Regions from separate parts of the Homo sapiens genome. Here region 1 is linked to region 2. Evidence: fine-mapped expression QTL. A gene starts in region 2. The other region holds a variant in brackets. All regions are shown on one strand. Distances are from middle to middle. Region 1 has its middle 27 kb from the start of LINC00402. Region 2 holds the start of KLF12 (KLF transcription factor 12).

Evidence for each region.
Region 1: its variant is fine-mapped to the expression of KLF12 in fibroblasts (GTEx, PIP above 0.99).

What each region holds. Positions count from the first base shown.
Region 1 is chr13:74,203,091-74,206,004 of GRCh38, forward strand. It overlaps a transcript of KLF12 not described here. Among named protein-coding and RNA genes, the nearest start is that of LINC00402, 27 kb to the right of the region's middle. The variant G/A (reference allele first, on the strand shown) is at 1,725.
Region 2 is chr13:74,133,422-74,135,921 of GRCh38, forward strand. It overlaps KLF12 (KLF transcription factor 12), which reads right to left and starts at 983. Exons shown (of 8, transcript NM_001400136.1): 1 at 551-983. RefSeq lists a silencer at 730-2,479.

The DNA of each region.
Region 1 (2,914 bases), 70 kb after region 2:
ATTAAGAAAGTCAAGAGATATAAAAGAGGCAATTAGTTTTGGAATTTATATCTGGGCATATTTAGTTTGAAGAATGTGTGGGGCATCTAAGAGATGATATCTCTTTGCAAATGCTGCTACAAATCTGGAGCTGAGGGTAGTGATCTGGCTGGAGATTAGACTTGGGTGTCATTACACATAGATTGCAGATCTCAATCTGTTGCTTGAAAACCTCTGCTTTCTCTAACCTGGAATTAGGCTAGATGCAAGAAGATGATGGCAAATTGAGCTTTGGAGGGAACACTATTCCTTTGTAGAGATATTTCATCTCATCAGATTTGTAAATTAATTACATGAAGAGTAAAAAATCAAGCATCAATACCTTCATAAATTTTTTAAATAAGACTATTATGGTCCACTATGATTCTTAATGGAATCTAAGACAATCTGGCTACTAGGATAAGGCAAAAAAAGGTAATGCTTATGAATTACAGCTGCCATTGAGATGTATCATGGTGAAAAAGCAGGACACATTATGATGCTATGCAATGTGAAAATCTGTACTGAACTTGGTGGAGGTTGGCATGAAGTGACTCTTCTTGGCAAAGAGGGTTTAAAATGTCCTTCCCCTAGCCACAGGGCACAAGAAATTAATTATGTCAGGGAAACACAGCTGCCAAGGAAAATGCAGATCCAGTGCTCAGGTTACAGAGACAGAGAGCTACAGTACCACCCAGCCATTCCCATTGACCAATATAGGAGGCAGTTTGCCAATTTGTAAGACAGCTTTGTAAATATGTGGTCCCCCAAGACTCTGTTTTGAACAGTATGTAAGCGGAGACTCAGAAGCAAAGCCTGAATGATTGGATGAAGAAAGACCTTAAAAAAAGATACAAATACTACACAGACATCTGTGTTTTTTGAAAACTTAAGCTAGAAACTCCACAAAAGCACAAAGATGTTGTCAGAAGTAAGTCGAGATTTTGCAGTGCCTTCCTCTCTTCCATCACCACCACCATCATCACCAATGTAGAATGGGCTTTGAAATGATACAACTCTGGTTTTTAAATTCCAGTTTTTTATTTACTATGTGTCTGACTTTGGACAAGTTCTTAAACTTCATCTGTAGGATGAGGATGTTGCTTAGCATTGTTGCACAATGGAAATAATGTGTGCAAAGTACCTGGCCCAGGGAAGGTTTTGAAATGTTTGCAATTTTTTCTTTTTTCAAATTTGTATAAATGTAAGGGTTACAAGTGCAGTTTTGTTACAGGGATATATTTTGTAATGGGAAAGTTTGGGCTTTTGATGTAACCATCACCCCAATAATATACATTAGACTCATTGTTTACAATTATTAATCCCAAAAACCTTTGTTAATAAATGCAAAAATACCTGTAAGAAATCCTCTAGGTTCCCTTATAAAATTATTCTTCTCAATTTATTTTTCCTTAAGTTTGGAAATCTGTCAACTCTAAAATCTTTTCTATGAAGATCATTTAGGTTTTTAGGAGTCTTGCCCAATTATTTGAGGAGGATTTATTGCAGTTTTGAGAGATACATAGAATGGCTTGCCTTCTTCTCTAAATTGTAAGCAAATTTCAGATCTAAAAACATGTTGAAGATTCTATTTTATGTATGAACCCGGCTATTACTTGAATGATTCAGAGACCTCAGTTTCTGCATGGCATCTGAAGGGACTTCAGGAATTCGAGGTTGGTGGATGATTGTACCATCATCACTGC[G/A]TATTTGGGATTTTTGTGCTATTATACCGAGGGTTGTATAGCATCTTCCTAGCAACTTCTTTCTAGTTTATTGCCACTATTGCAAATGTCAGATCTCAAGACTTTTGAGTGTTGGGCTTTTTATGAAGCCAGTAGCCAGTCTAAAATAAATTACTAGACATATGCTGATAGCAGAAAATGACCATAGAGTTATTTTCCCATTTACTCTTTATTGTTATATTTAAAAAGTGAACTTCTGTGAACACTGACATGGTTGCCATGTATTTTTTTTGGTTCTTGCTTGTGGCTTGCTCTGTGAATAGCCTAAAAACTATTTCACTAGTGGTCATCTACGTTAGCTAGAGGGTAAATTCCCTAAGGACATAGACTGATAGCAAATTTGCTCAGCGTGGGGAGAAGAGAAATCACTAAATACATTTTGTTGAATTAACCCAACTTAGTGAATTCATAATAAAACAAATGGCAACATTTTATAGCACCAGGAAATATTGTCAGATGAAGTTCTTTCTGACAAAATCTGGGGTGATATGAAAAGTAACTTATTCTCCCAAGACAACTGGCATCTTTTCTCTGAGACTCACTAGGCTTTGAGGATATGCTAAGATGGAGTTTGAGGTTTGGGAGAGGCTCCTCTTGGCACATAGAAACTGAAGTGCATGTGTGACTTTCTTCCTACTCAAGTGTATTGAGTAAAGAAAAATATTATCTAAAAATTGATGTTGGCTCACTCTGACTTAGCAAACACAATCTTGGATTTGTATGGACACGTAAAGCTTTGGTAGCCACATATAGTTGATGACTGACTTCCTTTGGCCTGCCACCTGACTTTCTTGACCCTGACGTAGACACAGAGGAAGGACTAGGCTGTCTTTATATTATTTAAAAGAAAACTGAAGAGTCAACCGAAACAAAGCAGCTGGAGCAGAAACTCATTACTGGGTAGAGAGGTTGAGGACACACTTAGCTGAGTTTGAAATCTACAACAAAGTTGAAGGCTCAGGGTGGGCTGCAAAAAGATAACTCTCTCCTCCAGGTTGTAGAGATTTTTATAGTAGGGAGAGAAAATTGATGAATATGAACCCTGTCAGCAGTAATTAACAGCTCCCAAATGTGGTAAACTGGGCTTCCAGTTGCCTTGGAGGTAATGTCTGACACAGAGATGACAAGAGATGCAAGTTTATAAATATCAA
Region 2 (2,500 bases):
CTTAATTCACGTTACTTGATAACTTCTTCTGGAAAAAAAAAATTAGGGGAGGTGGGGAAGAAACCTCCTTCTTTCTTCTCCACGAATCCGACCGACGCTACTTGCTTTGCAACAGCATCGCCCTTCCCCGGCCCCCTCCCGCTTCCCAGCACTTTCCCCCTTTAAGAACACAGACCAACCAAAATGATTTAACTTGAGCAGATGACAGAAGGAAAATAAAACACGTTAAGAGAATACGGTCTGATTTGGGATGGCAAAAAAAAAAAAAAAAGAGGAGGGGGTTGTTTATTTTGATAAGAAACGGAATCGGCACAGACCTGAACAGAAGCTGCAGAGCAGGAGAAATTGTTTTCTTTCCCTCACACAGAGTCCCCCTCTCTCTCTCCCTTTCTCTCTCTCACACGCGCGCGCGCACACACACACACACACTCGCACACACACGGCGTCACCCGCGCACACGCACACGCAGAGCCTCTCAGCGGCTCTCTGCAGTTCTCAGGAAATGAATGGGGGGCAACCCGGGGAACTGTTGTACTTGCAAATGACTTACCCGGATCACATGATGCGCTAAATGTAGGGTGGGCCGGTGGGTGGAGGCTGCCGAGTTGCGAGCCCCGGTCTAGTGTGGGGAGCCTCGCCAGGCCCGCATCGAATTACCCCGGGGCCCAGCCGAGGGGGTTGCAGGACGCCGCTTCTCCTCCCTCGCAGCCCGCAGCTCAGGAAACCGGAGAGGCGCTTGGGGTGGGGTGGGGTGGGGTGCTGTGAGGGGGGGGGCCGAAAACAAGAAACCCCCAAACAAAAGAGCTCCGGGTCCTCCTCCCCAGAAACAAAGCCCCGCCGCTGCCGGCGAGCCCCGGGGTGGGGCCGAGGGCGGGGGCGGCGGCGGGGAGGGGCTCGCTCAGCAGGCGCTAAGTCGCTTTATTGCCATAAAATGGGGCCCCCGAGCCGCTCCGCCCGAGGATTAGGAGGCGGGCTCTGAGTGTGATGGTTGAAATCCCCTGTGGGAAACTAACCCCTCCCCGCTCGCAGAGGTAGAAGGCAACACCCACTGCCCGGCCCTCGCCTCCCCGCCCGGACCGCCGGGCTGGGTCCGCGGCGCCTCCACCCCGCCCCACCCCGCCCCACCCCTGCCCCCGCCCTCCGGCCCCGGGCCTCGGCAGCGCTTCCCTTTCACCTGCACCACTTTGCTGCGGCACCCCAAATAACCCACACATGGCCCTGGGAGCTCGGGGAGTCGTCGGCCGAGGGGGCCCGCGGGGGCTTGCGGCGGGAGGGACCCCTGGAGAGCAACTCGCTGGGCAAGGACTCGCGCCGAGCCGCGAGAAAGTCTCCTCTTTTGTGTCAGAGCGCGCCAGACAGGCTTAGGAGAATTCGGGGACCCAAAAAGCGTGCAGCCCGCTTGGGCCCCCACCCCTCGCCGCACCCGCCCGGGTGGGGGCGCGCAGTGGAGGGAGGGGGCTGTCGCCCGGGTCGTCCCCGCGGCTCGCCCGCCAGCGAACTTGGAAAGGTGTGGGCGGAGCCGGCCGGGACTGTGGGGCAGCTCGCGGGGACCGCCCCTGGGCGCCGGGCATCGCCCGCGCCGGGCAACAATGGGGTCAGGCAGGGGCAGCCCCGCGGGCGGTGCCCCCCGCGCGCCGGTGGGGCGGGCGGAGGGCCGGGCGCGGCAGGCAGGGGAGTCATTGTTTGGGTTCCGGAGCGACGCACGTTGCGGGCGAAGCGGGGGCGCCCCTTTTCCCTGCGCTTCACCTTGGCGGGATGAATGGGGGCGAGGCGGAGATGCGCGCCTGGCCTCGCCACCCCAGCGAAGGGGCCCCTGCCTGCGCCAGTTCTGTGGGAAAGCACGCAAACTTGGAGGACTGGGGCAGAGGAAGCGGGATCTGCAGACCCCCGCGGGGCCCGGGGGCGGCGGGGAAGGGAGTCCAGCTCCACTGCCCCACGCCCAGAGCGGAGCCCCAAGAAGCGGACGGCCCGGAGCCGAGTCCTTGACGCTCTCCCCGGCAGCCCCTCCCTCCCCGCCTCCGCGCCCCGGGGAGCGGATCCGCGGGATTGTGGGGCGGGAGAGGGAGGAGGCGGCCGGGCGGCCCTGCAGTTCCCGCGGCGGCTCGGAGGGCGCGGGGTCAGCGCCGAGCCGGAGGGTCGGCGGGGGCGGGGAGCAGACGGGGCGGAAGCGGCCGGGCGGGCGGGGCGCGCGGCGGACGGAGGCGGGAGGCTGTGGGCCCGCCTCCTCACCATCCTAGGTGAGCGCGGCGCTCCGGGCACGACAGTATTCCCCTGCCCCGCGCCCCCGGCCCGGCCCGCCCCGCGTGGGAAATCGCCAGGGCTGTGGGAAGGCCGGGAAGGGGAAGTTTGTGTGCAGAGAGAAAGCTTTGCTGTACTGTGGCGTGGAGTGGGGTGGGAAGAGAAACAAGGGAGAGGCCGAGAAACAGGAAATGAGAACGAAGGCACGAATGTGAGCCAGGGCCAGCTGGGCTCCCCATCGGTGTGGCGGTTTCCAGCCACT